2 separate regions of the Homo sapiens genome follow, and region 1 is linked to region 2. The links come from fine-mapping of genetic effects on gene expression. Tissue or cell type: aorta. Region 2 holds a variant in brackets; the other region holds the start of a gene. All regions are shown on one strand. Distances are between the middles of the regions.

Region 1 (8,102 bases), 94 kb before region 2:
TATACTTAAAATGTCTACTGAATGGAAAAACCTCAGAGCAAGACACTGAACTATGAGCTATGCTTTTCTGCATTCTTTAATATACTATAAAACAAAATGACTACATCATGGTACAACCAAAATGGACTCATTATGATATATTAGGAAATGCTGAAATGTCTTCTGAACCATAGGAAGATTACCTCATATTCAGGACCAGAGGAACTGCATTTTACTATTTCAAATTATTTGAAAATTGATAATATACAGTATATATATGTAAAGCACTTAACCCTTTGGTTAAGGACTGAAACTGCCAGGGTTTAATCCTAGCACCGCTTAGTAGCTGTGTGACCTTGGGCAAATGGTTTAACCTCTCTGAGTCTTCATTTCCCAATGGATTCACATAATACCAAGTTCATAAGAATGAGGATTAGATGAATTAATGTATGCAAAACAATGAGAAAGGTCCGTAGAATGAAAAATGGGTTTTAGTACAGTCATCCCTCAGTATCAGCAGAGGACTGGTACCAGGTTCCTCCTGATACCAAAATCCATAGATGCTCAAGTCCCTTATGTAAAACGGCACAGTAAATATAACCTACTCACTTCCTCCCATATACTTTAAATCATTTCTAGATTTTTTATGCCTAATGCAATGTAAATAGTTGTTATACTGTTTTTATTTGTATTATTTACTATTTGTTATTGTTGTATTGTTATTTTTCCCCCAAATATATACACATACATATATTTTTGAGACGGGGTCTCACTCTGTCACCCAGGCTGGAGTGCAGTGCCGTTATCCTGGCTCACTGCAACCTCCACCTCCCGGGTTCAAGCGATTCTCCTGCCTCAGCCTCCCAAGTAACTGGGATTACAGGCGTGCACCACCACGCCCGGCTAAATCCAAATATTTTCAATCCACAATTGGTTGAATCCACATAGGGTGCAGAACCAACTGATATGGAGGGCCAACAGTAATTATTAGGCTCTGTATTTAACCAGAACACTTCATTCTATGAGATGAATAGCAAAGTTAATAATATATCTTCAAACAGCCACATGGATCTGGTAGATATTAATACTGGCAATGACTTCTATGATCAAAAGCACTCATAATTATTAACATTTTGCATTTTCCATTAAGTTAGTTAATAATTTACAGATCTTTTCTTACCAAGTATTTGCAAACAAAAGCTCTGACTCCAAGAGCAAGAAGAGCACATCCCACCAATCTAAATATTCGAAAAGAGTCAAATTCTTCTGTTGTATTTCCATCCTCTTGACTGGGTTTTTCACTAATCAGCTGTTTCCTTAGCTTCATTGCTTCTTCGAATCTGGAAAGGTACTGCTCTAGGCCATGGCGGGAACCCCTCTGGACCGAGTCCGCTGTCAGGTCCCCTCTGTTCCGCTGCCGGAGCTCAAGGTTGACATCACTACTGCACTCAGGTGGTTTAATGAACGAGTCCAATTTGTCTCCCAGTTGGGTCCCCTTTACCTCGGCCACACCACCCTGCTGGTCAGTTGTTCCTGTACTGACTGAATCACCCAGCACTACTCGCTTTGAAACGGAAGGAACGCTGAGGGAGTTCAGTTTATCACTGTCCTGCTGCTTTGATTTTGTTTGACTTTCTTCTTCTGAGAAAAGAAATGTAAAAGCCTTATGTATTTATTCCATACTGGCAAACACCTTACATGTTTATGTTTTAAAATATGCTGTTGCAGCTAGAACTCAGCAGCCTCTGCATCAAAATAAATAAATACCGATTCTGCATTAAAGAAAAGCTGGTTTCGGCCAGGTGCCGTGGCTCACGCCTGTAATCCCAACACTTTGGGAGGCTGAGGCGGGCGGATCATGAGGTCAAGAGATTGAGACCATCCTAGCCAACATGGTGAAACCCCGTCTCTACTAAAAATACAAAAATTAGCTGGGTGTGGTGGCGTGTGTCTGTAGTCCCAGCTGCCTATAGTCCCAGCTACTCTGGCTGAGGCAGGAGAATCACTTGAAACCCGGGGGGAGGAGGTTGCAGACACTGCGCCACTACACTCCATCTGCATCTGCCTGGCGACAGAGTGAGACTCCATCTCAAAACAAAAAAAAGAAAAAAGCTGGATTCTTCCTCTACACCCTCAAAATGTATCACCCAAAATGAATATTCTGCAGAGGAAATAACCCAAACTTTGTGGGTAGGAGATAAGATTAGTAGACAAACTGGGAAAGATATTCAGAGATGGAGCAAGCTGAAAAGACCAACTTTTTATGGATAATATATCCCAGATGTATGATTGCATTGCCTGCCTTAGCTTATTTGGTTAAAAATATAAAATCAGTAAAGCCTTTTAAAATCTATATTTTAAAATTAGATTTCTGAATCCAGTGCCCTATGAGCATAGGGTGTGGCATATCCCAAAGCTACTGTTTATGTAGTCAGGCAGCCATTAGTAGGCACTTCAGCAGTTTTAAGACACTACTCTGGGGTTTTGTTTTTGTTTTTGTTTTAAAAAAAAGGCCAGGCACAATGGCTCACACCTGTAATCCTGTAAGCCCAGCACTTTTGGAAGCCAAGGCTGGTGGATCACTTGAGCCCAGAAGTTCCAGACCAGCTTAGGAAACATAGTGAGACCCCCCCATCTCCACACACACAATTTTTTTTTAAATTAGCCAGGCATGGTGGTGTACACCTGTGGTCCTAGCTACTCCGGAGGCTGAGGTAGCAGGATTGCTTAAGCCCAGGAGTTTGAGGCTGCAGTAAGCTATGATCATGCCACTGCACTCCAGCCTGGCCTACAGAGGGAGACCCTGTCTCAAAAAATAAAACAACCTTTAAAGACATAAAATTTTCAAAGCAAAAGAACAAAATATAGAAAGTACCTCAGGTAAGATCATAAATAATGCTTTAAGAATAAATAGCCCGATAGAAAAATGTTTCTTCTATTGTTCTAGAAGAATTTGAAATGGTTTTCTTACCTCTCATTTGAACTGCCTAAAAGTTCAGAGCTATACACCTAAAGCCTTACAGAACAAAAGTCACAAAGATATAAGGAGCTTGCGACCAGTGACTAAAGGCCAATTACTAAAGGAAACACTGGAAACTTAGATAACACTAGGGCGCGCTAATTGCTCAATTATACTCACGTGAAATAAATTTTTTTTAAAGAAAATCATTGGACATGTGTTTGGGGGAGGAAGGAGGCGCTCTCCTTAGAAATGCAGCTCCAGACATCAATCACAACAATATCCCCTCATGAGGAGAGGAAACTCTCAGGTGTGCACTTCGCACTTGCTGGGTCTCTGAAGAATGCTCACTCTCACTTTTCCCACCTTTTCTAGCCGGCCCGTAGGTGACAGTGTTGACGGCACTGAACACAAACACTAGGATATGAGCACAAGAGTCCCTGATACACGTAGGATGAACTAGCGGGCAGTTCAGTAAAGACAGGCTGATGTGGGCGGACAGGAGTTACACAGCAAAAGGCAAAAGAAGGTAGACGCTAGAGAAGGCACTGTAAGGAAAAGCACTTGGAACCTTAAGAAGGAAAGCCATCTTCCTAAGGGGAGCAGTAGACATGACAGTCTGGGGATACAACGTGCGCCCTTCAAGAAAGGCGAGGAGTGGCTAAGGAAAAAAGGGGCTGTTCAACGTAACTGGGAAGAGGGAGTGAGAGCTCTGCAGGCAGGGTGGGGAAAATCTCACGGCGAGGCCCCGGGAAAATTGAGGGGAGCGACTAGGAACATCCTGGGGTTCAGGGATGAGAACTTGGGATATCACCGAAGGGGCGGGACAGAGAGGAAATCAAAGAGCAAGGCTTGGTCAAAAAGGTCAGAGGAGTGGAGGTGGGAGAGGGAAGAATGACCCTGAAGATTCAAGGTGATGGGCGGGAGACTGAGGGGAAATCGAGGCTCTTACCCGCGCCGCTCCCGGGCCTGTGAAAGCCCATGATCCGGTTGATGCGCTGTTCCGAGTTCATGAGCAGCTTTCTCCGACGCAGCTCCGCCCGACGCTGGGAAGCCGACAGACCTGAGCCCGCTGGGACCCCCGGCCTCTCCCCGCCGTCGGTAGCGACGGCCATCGACTCCATCCTCCCGTCCACAGTCTGGGAGGGGTGGCAGTGGCGGTGATGTTGGCCGCCGCTGCGAGGGCGATGACTAGAGGCCGGGCCGCAGGGCGCGCGTCCCCTTCCCACTATAGACCCGCCCCCGAGCGCGGTCCCGGAGCCTGTGAGCTAAGCACTCACGCACCGCCCCACGCGACCAAGCGCGAGGCTCTGGCCGCCATCTTGAGTGAGGGCAGCGCTGGACGCCCTCGTGCCTCCCCAACTCTTCTGGCCCTCACCCAACAGCCCCCTCTGCTGTTCACTCGGAGGTGAAGAAAACCAGCACCCAGGGCCGGGAGTGGTGGCTCACGCCTGTAATCCTAGCACTTTGGAAGGCCGAGGCGGGCGGATCACGAGGTCACGATTTCGAGAGTAGCCTGGCCAACATGGTGACCCCCTCCCCCCTCCCCCCACCCGTCTCTACTAAAAATACAAAAACTTAGCCGGGCGGGGTGGCGCGCGCCTGTAATCCCAGCTACTCGGGAGGCTGAGGCAGGAGAATCTCTTGGACCCAGGAGGCGGAGGTTGCAGTGAGCCGAGATCGCGCCACTGTTCTCCAGCCTGGGCTACAGAGCGAGACTCTGTCTCGAGAAAAAAAAAAAGAAAGAAAAGAAAACCGGGAGTGGGAAAGGGATGGCAGTAAGTAGGTCAGCCTAGATTTGGTGCCAGGAAGCAAAATGGAGGTTGCAGCGGCAGTCGCTTGTTTACAGACCCGCGGCCTCGCCTGTAGGCAATGGGAATACGTAACCCTGGGAGCCGCACTTAAAGGGAGCCTTACGCTGGGATTTGTTCTTGGTGCCTGTTCCTCATCCTTAACTTCTCTACGGCAAAGTATACGGCTGATGTGTTCCTAGGCTTTCCTCGCGTTTTGTGCGTTTTTATTCAAATTAGAATTTCCCATTGAAACCTTTCGTGCACATTCTATCTAAATTGCCAACACTCCCCATTCCCCTTCACCTTGTTTTTTCTCCTTGTCGTTCATGACCACCTCGCATGCTAAAGATGCTCCAGCCTGGGCGACAGAACGAGACTCCGTCTCAAAAAAAAAAAAGGAAAAGAAAAGAAAAAAACAAAAAGGCCGGGAGCGGTGGCTCACGTCTGTAATCCTAACTTTGGGAGGCCGAGGCAGGCGGATCACCTGAGGTCAGGAGTTCGAGACCAGCCTGGCCAATATGGCAAAACCCCGTCTCTACTAAAAATACAAAAATTAGCCTGACCTGGTGGCATGCACCTGTAATCCCAGCTACTTGGGAGGCTGAGGCAGGAGAATCGCTTGAACCTGGGAGGCAGAAATTGCAGTGAGCCGAGATCATGCCACTGCACTCCAGCCTGGGCGACAGAGGGAGACTCCGTCTCAAAAATACATATATAAAAGAAATAAATAAAATAAAATCAGAACAAATGACTGGGCGCGGTGGCTCATGCCTGTAATTCCAGCACTTTGTGAGGGCTGAGATGGGTGGATCACTTGAGGCCAGGAATTCGAGACCAGTCTGGCCAACGTGGCAAAACCCTGACTGTACTAAAAATACAAAAATTAGTCGGGCTTGGTGGCGTGTGCCTGTGGTCCCAGCTACTTGGGAGGCTAAGGTGGGAGGATCACCTGATCCTGGGGAGGTTGAAGCTGCAGTGAGCAATGATCGGGCCACTGCACTCCAGACTGGGTGACACAGTGAGACCCCATCTCAAAAAAGTTTTTTCAGAAAAAAATAATATATTTGCTATATTGTAATGGATCCAGTCTGGATTATAGTCATCATTAATAGCAATACAGTCATAAAATATAATTTTAAGTATGTTTTCAGGCAGGAAGGAGCCACAAAGGCAAAAGAGCTTAGGGCCCTTGAAAGTCATAATGCAGCCTTGGCATTCAGTAATGACTTACTAAGTGAATGATTAGATGAATGAAGGAATTGAATCCATCAACCCTTGCTAACAGGGAGCATGGCCAGTTCACACCTGAGGCTGAGGAGGGTTTTGAAGCAGCTTACTGGGTGGGCCCCCTGCAACTAAGCCTGCCACACAATCACCCTCAAAATAAGGAAGTGGGTGAAATACCACTTAGAAGATAATAAAATACTATATTTATATTAATACTGAAAAAGAAGTGAAAACAAAAGAAACTTCGGTTTGGATTCAACAACATAAGGAGCTCAAAGAATATACAGACTGAACTTTCACCCTTGATTGGATGAAAGTTAAATCCCAGGGACATCCACTAGTTAATAATTTTAAAGTATTAGAGGAAGTTCTTCTGCATATCTGCACAGACATAGATCTCTGAGCCCTAGACTTCCTTAAAACAATTTTACACACAACTGAAAATAATGGAAATAACTGTCAAATAGTAACAAATGTGCAGAATTTGATGAGGCACAGCCCTGATCAATCAAGACGGTTCCAGAAAGGGTTTGAGGAGCTAAATTAGAATTATAGTGTTATATTCAATGATATAAGCATCAAGCAAATTATTTCCAAGTAATATTTCATTCCTCCTTGAAACTGAGGAAGCCGTATAACTGAACTTGAACAGAATTATAAAAAATGTCTGGGCTGGCATGTGGGAGGTCCAGGCAGGAGGATCACTTGTGGCAAGGAGCTCAAGACTGACCTGGGCAACATAGTGAGACCCCCTTCTCTATTTAAAAACAAAGAAAAGAGATCGGGAGGCCAGGTGCGGTGGCTCACACCTTTAATCCCAGCACTTTGGGAGGCTGAGGTGGGTGGATCACTTGAGGTCAGGTGTTCGAAACCAACCTGGCCAACATGATGAAACCCATCTCCACTAAAAATACAAAAATTAGCCAGGCATGGTGGCACACACCTGTAATCCCAGCTACTCGGGAGGGTGAGGCAGGAGAATCACTCAAACCCAGGAGGCAGAGGTTGCAGTGAGCTGAGATTGCACCACTGCACTCTAGCCTGGGCGACAGAGTGAAACTCTGTCTCAGAAAAACAAAAAAAAAGAGTCCAGGCGCAGTGGCTCACACCTGTAATCCCAACGCTTTGGGAGGCCAAGGTGGGAGGACTGCTTAAGCTTAGGAGTTCAAGACCAGCCTGGGTAACATAGTGAGACCTCGTCTCTAGAAAAAAAAAAAAATCAAAAAATTTAAAAAAATTTAAAACGAGGCAGGAAGTTTGCTGCAATGAGCCATGATTGCATCACTCCACAACCACCTGGGTGATAGAGCTAGACCTTGTCTCAAAAGAAAAAGAGTAAAAGAATGAATTGATGAAACTGCTTAAAAGAAATTCAAGAACAATTTTCAGAAATTAGCAAATTACTTCCTCTAAATTCCATAATGAGTCAAATTTTTATTTTTATAAACACAGGGTCTTACTCTATGGCCTAGGCTGGAGTGCAGGGGCACAATCATAGCTCACTGCAGCCTACAGCCTTGAACTCCTGGGCTCAAGCAATCCTCCTGCTTCTGCCTCCTGAGTAGCTAAGGCTACAGGATTGAGCCCAGATAATTTTTTTTTTTTTTGAGATGGAGTCTTGCTCTGTCGCCCAGGCTGGAGTGCAGTGGCGCAATCTTGGCTCACTGCAAGCTCCGCCTCCTGGGTTCAAACCATTCTCCTGCCTCAGCCTCCCAAGTAGCTGAGACTACAGGCGCCGGCCACCACACCCGGCTAATTTTTTTTGTATTTTTAGTAGAGACGGGGTTTCACCGTGTTAGCCAGGATGGTCTCGATCTCCTGACCTCGTGATCCGCCCGCCTTGGCCTCCCAAAGTGCTGGGATTACAGGCATGAGCCACCGTCCCCGGCCGAGCCCAGATAATTTTTTAAAAAAAATTTTTTGTAGAGATGGGGTCTCTATGTTGCTGGTCTTAAATTCCTGGGCTCAAACAATCCAATCTTCTCAGCCTCCCAAAGTGCTGGGATTACAGGTGTGAGCCCCTGGACCCAGCCAGAAATTTTATTTCAATAATTTTCTCAAGTATAGTTGTTAAACACCCTTAAACACTCAAAGTTTAAAAGAAACAGAGTGAATTAACAGTTTCAATAGGAGACATGTCAATA
Region 2 (8,102 bases):
GTGTCACCGCTACGGAAATTCCCGCCGTTGTGAACGTGACCTCGCTCGCAGAGCCAGGATCGTGGGGCAATCTGAGATTCAGTAGCCGCTTTCGTGGGGTGGGACTGACAGTTCCTCTCCTCGGGTTTTGTGAAGATTACCTGAGACCATAGAAGTCATCGTCCTCTGTTGAGACCGTACCACCACTGGGAGCTGGGGCGGTTAATGTTCATCGCAGTATTTCATTCACATTTCGTCTTCGTGTTTCAGATGTAAATTATAAGGGGTTTTAAAAAGAGGTGGTTAAATATGTGTACATGTTAATAGTGTGATCAAGCCAAGAAGGAGGCCTTTGTCTTTGACTGGAGGACTCAGAGGAATTTTAATTTTGAAACTCGCTGATTCACAGCATAGTCACGCTCAAGTTCATTAGCACATTTAAATGGCAGTTTTGTTTCCTCTTCTAAGAGTTTACAGTAAGGTAAAGAACTCAAACTTCCTTTCAGAGCAAGTAGACTTTTTTTTTTTTTGCAAGTTGACTTTTTTGACTTTTGAAGCCAAAGGGAGGTCGAAACTGCGGTGATTGGACAACATAGTTAATTAATGATTGAGTAATCATCTTAGCTGCCTTCATTCTATTTAGGTTTTTCCTGCTCTGTGCTGACGATAAAGCCCTCCTTTACAGATTTGTACTGTGGATTAAAATGTCATGCCACGCGGTTTCGAAACCTCAGTGTGAAGTACATCTTACCTAATTCATTTAATACCAAATGCCTGCTATGAAGTGTTATATTACATACAAAAAAAAGCCAGATCTAAACCACTGTGTCGGGCTGGGCAAGGTGGCTCACTCCTGTAATCCAAGCACTTTGGGAGGCTGAGACAGAAGGATTACTTGAGGCCAGGAGTTTGAGACCAGTCTGGACAACAGGGAGAGTCCCCTTATCTCTATTTAAAAAATATATATATATATATATTTTTGAGACAGAGTCTTGGTCTGTTGCCCAGGCTGGAGTGCAGTGGTGCCATCTCCGCTCACTGCAACCTCCGCCTCCTGGGTTCAAGCAATTCTCCTGCCTCAGTCTCCCGAGTAGCTGGGATTACAGGCTCCTGCCACCATGCCTGGCTAATTTTTGTATTTTTAGTAGAGACAGGGTTTCACCATGTTGGCCAGGCTGGTCTTGAACACCTGACCTCAGTTGATCCACCCGCCTCAGCCTCCCAAAGTGCTGGGATTACAGGCGTAAGCCACCATGCCCAGCCAATGTTTTTAATTAAATAAATTTTTAAAAAGTGGCCAGTGTGGTGGCACATCCCTGTAGTCCCAGCTACTCAGGAGGCTGATGTGGGAGGATCACCTGAACCCAGGAGTTCGAGGCTACAGTGAGCTGTGATCTCACCACTGCACTCCAGCCTGCATGACAGAGTGAGATCTTGTCTCTAAGAAAAGAAAAAGAATAAACCACTGTGTCAGGCCTAAAAAAGGTCAGTAAAAATTCAAATAACTAAATACTAAATTTTATACTAACCCTGTTTTCATCATTTGCCTCAGAACTTTACTAAAAATGTATTTGCTCGGGCGTGGTAGCTTACAACTGTAATCCCAGCACTTTGGGAGGCCAAGGCGGGCGGATTACCTGAGGTCAGGAGTTCAAAACCAGCCTGGCCAACATGGTGAAACTCTGTCTCTACTGAAAATACAAAAATTAGCCAGGTGTGGTGGCACATGCCTGTAATCCCAGCTACTCAGGAGGATGAGGCAGGAGAATTGCTTGAACCCAGGAGACGGAGGTTGCTGTGAGCCAAGATTGTGCCACTGCACTCCAGCCTGGCTGACACAGCAAGACTGTCTCAAAAAATAAAAAATAAAAATAAATAAATATTTGCTGTAAGTAGCATTTAACAATTCAATTCCTTTGTACAAGATCCAAGTACAATAACTTTTTTTTTTTTTTTGAGACAGTCTGTTGTCCAGGCTGGAGTGCAGTGGTGCAGTCACAGCTCATTGCTGCCTCAACCTCCTGGGCTCAAGCAGTCCTCCAGCCTCAGCCTCCTGAGTAGCTGGAACTACAGGTGTGTGCCATTATGCCTGGCTAGGTTTTTATTTGTTTGTTTGTTTGTTTGTTTGTTTTTGTAAAGAGAAGGTCTTGCAAGAGATCCTCCTGCCTCATCCTTCCAAAATGAGATTACAGGTTTGAGCCACCACGCCCAGTTAAAATCTTAAGATGAAGATGATACTTTTGGTCAAATTGTTTACAGTTTGGAGCCACTATAACAAAATCCCAAGTTATAGATCCAAAAACACTTTAAAATTGCACAGACACAAGCCTCTCAATGTTTTGAAGAGGAAATAGAGCTCAGAGAGAAACAACCTTTCTGAGGTCAGACAAAATCAGGGTCACTCTTCAAAGAGGCAAATACCTGATCTCAAACCTGCATTAGTTTAATTATCTCTTTTTATTCAGCTCCTTTTGAATGATCTTGATTTGTTTTGACCTTGGCACAGTGGTTTGATTTGGTTAAATCAAGGTTTCTTTGAACTTTGTGCTATTTAAGCAGTATCTGTGTGTTCAGAGATTTTTTTTTTTTTTTTTTTTTGAGACGGAATCTCGCTCTGTCGTCAGGCTAGAGTGCAGTGGTGCGACCTTGGCTTGCTGCAACCTCTGCCTCCCGGGTTCAAGCTATTTAAGCAATATCTGTGTGTTCAGAGATTTATTTATTTATTTATTTATTTATTTATTTATTTTGAGACGGAATGTCGCTGTGTTGCCAGGCTGGAGTGCAGTGGTGCGATCTCGGCTCACTGCAACCTCTGCCTCCCGGGTTCAAGTGATTCTCCTGCCTCAGCCTCCCGAGTAGCTGGGACTACAGACGCATGTCACCATGCCCAGCTAATTTTTGTATTTTTACTAGGGACAGAGTTTCACCATGTTGACCAGGCTGGTCTTGAACTCATGACTTCAGGTGATCAACCTGCCTTGGCCTCCCAAAGTGCTGGGATTACAGGCCTGAGCCACCGTGCCTGGCCCCAGAGATTTTAAAAAGTAGTCTAGTTGGTTAAATCAGGTTAAATCAACATAAATAATTTTCTAATAAGTAAACAATGCTTTCTCTAAAATTTGTTCCACCCCTAAGTTGCTATGTTACTGTTCGTGTCCTCAAAGCAATGATTAAGTATTTCAAATGGTTTTTACACTCTCGGTGTAATCAGCACTACAGTATTGAGGAGAGCTGGGCATGGTGGCTCACGCCTATAATCCCAGGACTTTGGGAGGCCAAGGCAAGTGGATCCCCTAAGCCCAGGAGTTGGAGAACAGCCTGAGGAATATGGCAAAACTCCATCTCTACAAAAACATACAAAAAATTAGCTGGGCATGGTGACGTATGCCTGTAGTCCCAGCTGCTCAGAAGACTAAGATGGGAGGATCGCTTGAGCCTGGGAGGTTGATTGTGCTACTGGACTCCAGCCTAGGCAACAGAGTAAGACCCTGTCTCAGAATACATATATACATATATATAGAGAGAGAGAGACAGAAGAAAAACAGCATTTGTCATCTGCCTAACCTTTGGGATAGTAGGAAGGTAAGTTTAAGTAACTGAGATGGGACAACATATTTTAAAAGTTTTCATATTAAGTATTATCCACACAATATCAAATCATTTGATGACTCATTTAAGTGTGGCCACAGAAATATGAAAAAATTATTGGTGATAGCAATTATAACAATTGCTCTTGGCCAGGCGTTGTGGCTCACGCCTGTATTCCCAACACTTTGGTAGGCCAAGGTGGGTGGATCACTTGAGGTCAGGCATTCGAGAGCAGCCTGGCCAACATGATGAAACTCTGTCTCTACTAAAAATACAAAAATTAGCCAGGCATGGTGACGGGCGCCTGTAATCCCAGCTATTTGGGAGGCTGAGGCAGGGAAAATTGCTGAACCTGGGAGGCAGAGGTTGCAGTGAGCTGAGATCTTGCCACTGCACTCCAGCCTGGGCGACAGAGGGAGACTCTGTCTCAAAAAAAAAAAAAAAATGCTCTTACCAATTGTTATTGATATTTCTTTGTTCAATTACCTGTATGTACACTACACTACTATACATTTTTCTAAACTGATGTCAGTAATATATTCTACTTTTTTATCTTTATTGTCCAGAAAAACAGAATCCTTCTGCCATATATACAACCTTCATAAGGCCATTATATGATTTTCTGCATATTTTCAGAGCCTTCAACCCTAGTTAAGAAAATTGTAGGCCCAGGGCAGTGGCTCACGCCTGTAATCCCAGCGCTTTCGGAGGCCGTGGCGAGCAGATCACAAGGTCAGGAGTTTAAGACCAGCCAGTCCAACATGG[T/C]GAAACACCTGTCTCTACTAAAAATACAAAAAATTAGCTGGGCGTGATGGCAGGTGCCTGTAATCCCAGTTACTCGGGAAGCTGAGGCAGAAGAATCATTTGAACCCAGGAGGCAGAAGTTGCAGTGAACCGAGACCACGCCAGTGCACTCCAGCCTGGGCAACAGAGCACAACCCCGTCTGAAAAAAAAAAAAAAAGAAAGAAAGAAAATTGTAAAGAACAAAATAAGTGACAAGAAACTGTTTCAGTAAGGATATAAACATTATACTAAGAATATTCCATTACATTTGATTATTTAGACTCAAAACTGGGAGACAGGCATTTCTAATAAAATTTGCTGATATGCAGAAGTGGACTTAGGCTCACACCAGAGCTCCTTTGCCTGCCTGCTCATGACTGTTGCATTTTCAGGTGATAAATAGGATCAACTTGCTTTACTTTTCAGGAAGGGGTAAATTATTTTGGGTTCTTTAATTATTAAAAATACTGTTCGGCCGGACACAATGGCTCACACCTGTAATCCCAGCACTTTGGGAGGCCAAGGTGGGTAGATCAAGAGATCAGGAGTTTGAGACCAGTCTGGCCAAGATGGTAAAACCCCATCTCTACTATAAATACAAATATTAGCTGGGCATGTTGGCAGTTCCCTGTAATCCCAGCTACTCGGGAGGCTGAGGCAGGAGAATTGCTTGAACCCGGGATGTGGAGGTTGCAGTGAGCTGGAATCGTGCCACTGCACTCCAGCCTGGGGGACAGAGCAAAACTCCGTTAAAAAAAAAAAAAAAAAAAAAAGACCGTTCCATTTCTATTTCAAACAAAGAACAGTTTCAGTTACAAACAGGTTTATAAGAACAACAGTTTTGTTTACTGAAACTCTTTTGGTTCCATTTTAAGAACAGTTCCTTTGGCCTCATTTGCTTCTGACAGGACAGCTGTTTGTATCTGAAGTCAGCAGCTCTGAAGCTACATCACAAGTACATTCATCCCCACCAAGCCTGAAAATCCCATTGCTTTCTTTGAAAACTTCTCATTTTTATGTAGCTCTTACCATTCTTCCTGCCCATTCTGGTTACTTTTCATCATCTTGCACTTGAACTGTTGGGAATGAATCGCCTTCTGGATTGCCTCTAATCCATCCCACATGTTGAATTGAGTTCCTTAACCACTGATTCCATTTTTACTTTCCTATACTCCCAGATCTGTGATTACTCCCTCTGCTTGCTCCATCAAGTTAAAATTTTTCTGCATGACTTTTCTCATCTCAAGCTAAGTAAAATCCAGAGTGCTACCCCGGCCCCACGTGACCTGGCCTTGCTACCTCTTTGACTTCCACACTCCTTCCCACTCACTCCACTCCAGACACATTTGCTATTTCTCTAGCTATTCAAGCACAAGCCTGCCATTACACTTATTTCTGTTACTTGGGATACTCTTCCCCAAGACATCTAGGGAACTCAAACTCACTCCTTTAGGCCCTTGTTCAAATATTACTTTAATTGAAGAGGGCTTCTCTAAATATCCTACCTGACACAGCTCACTCTGTGTTCCTCTTACTCTGCTTATGTTTCTTCATAACACTTATTATTGTTATATATTTGTGTCTTTTTTATTATCTTATTTGATAGAGATGAGGTCTCACCATGTTGCCCAGGCTGCTCCCAAACTCCTGGCCTCAAGTGATCCTCCTGCCTCAGCCTCCCAAAGTGCTGGGGTTATAGGCGTGAGCCACTGACCCTGGCCCTATTCGTGTCTATGTGTCTATGTTTATCTTTTTTCTTTTTTTTTTTTTTTTTGAGATGGAGTCTCGCTCTGTCGCCCAGGCTGGAGTGCAGTGGCGCAATCTTGGCTCACTGCAAGCTCCACCTCCCAGGTTCACACCATTCTCCTGCCTCAGCCTCCCGAGTAGCTGGGACTACAGGCGCCTGCCACCACGCCCGGCTAATTTTTTGTGTTTTTAGTAGGATGGGTTTCACCGTGTTAGCCAGGGTGGTCTTGATCTCCTGACCTTGTGATCCGCCTGCCTCGGCCTCCCAAAGTGCTGGGATTACAGGTGTGAGCCACCGTGCCCAGCCTGTTTATCTTTTTTCAATGGACCATAAGTCTATACATAGCCTGTGAATTCCAAGGTAACCATGTCTGTTTCCCTGTTAGACCGTCAGTGAGTAGAGACCAAGGACTGTGTCTTATTCACACAAGTGTGGGTATTCTCAACACTTGGCTTGGGGCCTCACACTTAACAGGTACAATATTCAGTAAACATTTTTGAAGGAATAAATTTAAAGTGTCTTTATCTTCCAGACTTCTGACAATTTTAATTTTGTTTTCTTTTTTTTTCCTTTTTAGAAACAGGGTCTCACTCTGTCACCTAGACTGGAGTGCAATGGCGTGATTATAGCTCACTGTAGCCTTAACTTCCGGGGCTCAATTATCCTCCCACCTCAGCCTCCTGAGTAGCTGGTACTACAGGTGCACACCACCACACCCACTAATTTGTGTATTTTTTGTAGAGACGGGATTTCACCATGTTACCCAGGCTGGTCTCAAACTCCTGGACTCAAGCAATCAGCCTGCCTCGGCCTCCCAAAGTCCTGGGATTACAGGCATGAACCACCGCCCAAGGCCTATTCTAACTCTTTTGACCCTCATTAATTCATTACTATAAGTTACTATTGCACTTATAGCCTAAACCACATCACTAGCACTTGTTTCTAAACTATGTTGGTCTAAGTTCTTTTTTTTTTTTCACTTGAGTGCTTAGTAATGAGAAGTCTCAAGTTCTTTCAGGTTCTCGACTGTTATGTTATATCGTGATAAGGCCTAATACTGTAGTTGAAGTAGTGCCAGCCCCTGTTCAGGCCCAGCTCACCCGGGAAGGGCTAGAGGTACAGTATCAAATGCCAATTCTTTTTCCTTTTTTCTTTTTGAGACAGAATCTCATTCTGTTACCCAGACTGGAGTGCAATGGCGCGATCTCGGCTCAATGCAACCTCCGCCTTCCAGGTTCAAGCGATTCTCCTGCCTCAGCCTGCAGAGTAGCTGGGACTACAGGCGTGTGCCACCGTGCCCAGCTAATTTTTTTTTTTTTGAGACAGAGTCTCGCTCTGTCACCCATGCTGGAGTGCAGTGGCATAATCGTGGCTCACTGCAACTTCTGTCTCCTGGGTTCAAGCAATTCTCCTACCTCAGCCTCCCGAGTAGCTGGGATTACAGGTGCCCGCCAACACACCCAGCTAATTTTTGCTTTTTTTTTTTTTGACGGAGTCTCACTCTGTCGCCTGGGCTGGAGTGCAGTGGTGCTATCTCAGCTCACTACAACCTCTGCCTCCCGGGTTCAAGCGATTCTTCTGCCTCAGCCTCCCAAGTAGCTGGGATTACAGGCGCCTGTCACTACTCCCACCTAATGTTTTGTATTTTTAGTAGAGACCGGGTTTCACCATGTTGGCCAGGCTGGTCTCAAACTCCTGACCTCGTGATTTACCCGCCTCAGCCTCCCAAAGTGCTGGGATTACAGGCATGAGTGGCTGCCCCCAGCTAATTTTTGTATTTTTAGTAGAGATGGGGTTTCACCATGTTGGCCAGGCTGATCTCGAACTCTTGACCTCAGGCCATCCACCCGCCTTGGCCTCCCAAAGTGTCTTTTTCCATTTCTAAACCCAACTATTTATCTACAGATACCCTGACACCACAGTATTAAAGATGTATACCTTCCCCTCTAAACCTACCTTTTCCTCATGACACTTTCTCATGAATAACTTCACCAGCTCCTTCGT

Direction of the effects. Alleles are on the strand shown, and positions count from the first base shown. SD is a standard deviation of normalised expression in the study named.
As copies of T replace C in region 2, the expression in aorta of the gene that starts at base 4,135 in region 1 goes down (moderate effect, 0.42 SD a copy in GTEx).

The links. PIP is the estimated chance that this variant, and not a neighbour inherited with it, causes the effect.
Region 1: CAMLG starts here. The variant in region 2 is fine-mapped to the expression of CAMLG in aorta (GTEx, PIP 0.98).

What each region holds. Positions count from the first base shown.
Region 1 is chr5:134,734,581-134,742,682 of GRCh38, reverse strand. It overlaps CAMLG (calcium modulating ligand), which reads right to left and starts at 4,135. Exons shown (of 4, transcript NM_001745.4): 1 at 3,891-4,135; 2 at 1,160-1,620. The coding sequence starts at 4,062. RefSeq lists an enhancer at 4,498-4,547.
Region 2 is chr5:134,640,474-134,648,575 of GRCh38, reverse strand. It overlaps a transcript of SEC24A not described here. Among named protein-coding and RNA genes, the nearest start is that of SEC24A, 4.3 kb to the left of the region's middle. RefSeq lists enhancers at 1-143, 1-180, 191-250. The variant T/C (reference allele first, on the strand shown) is at 4,333.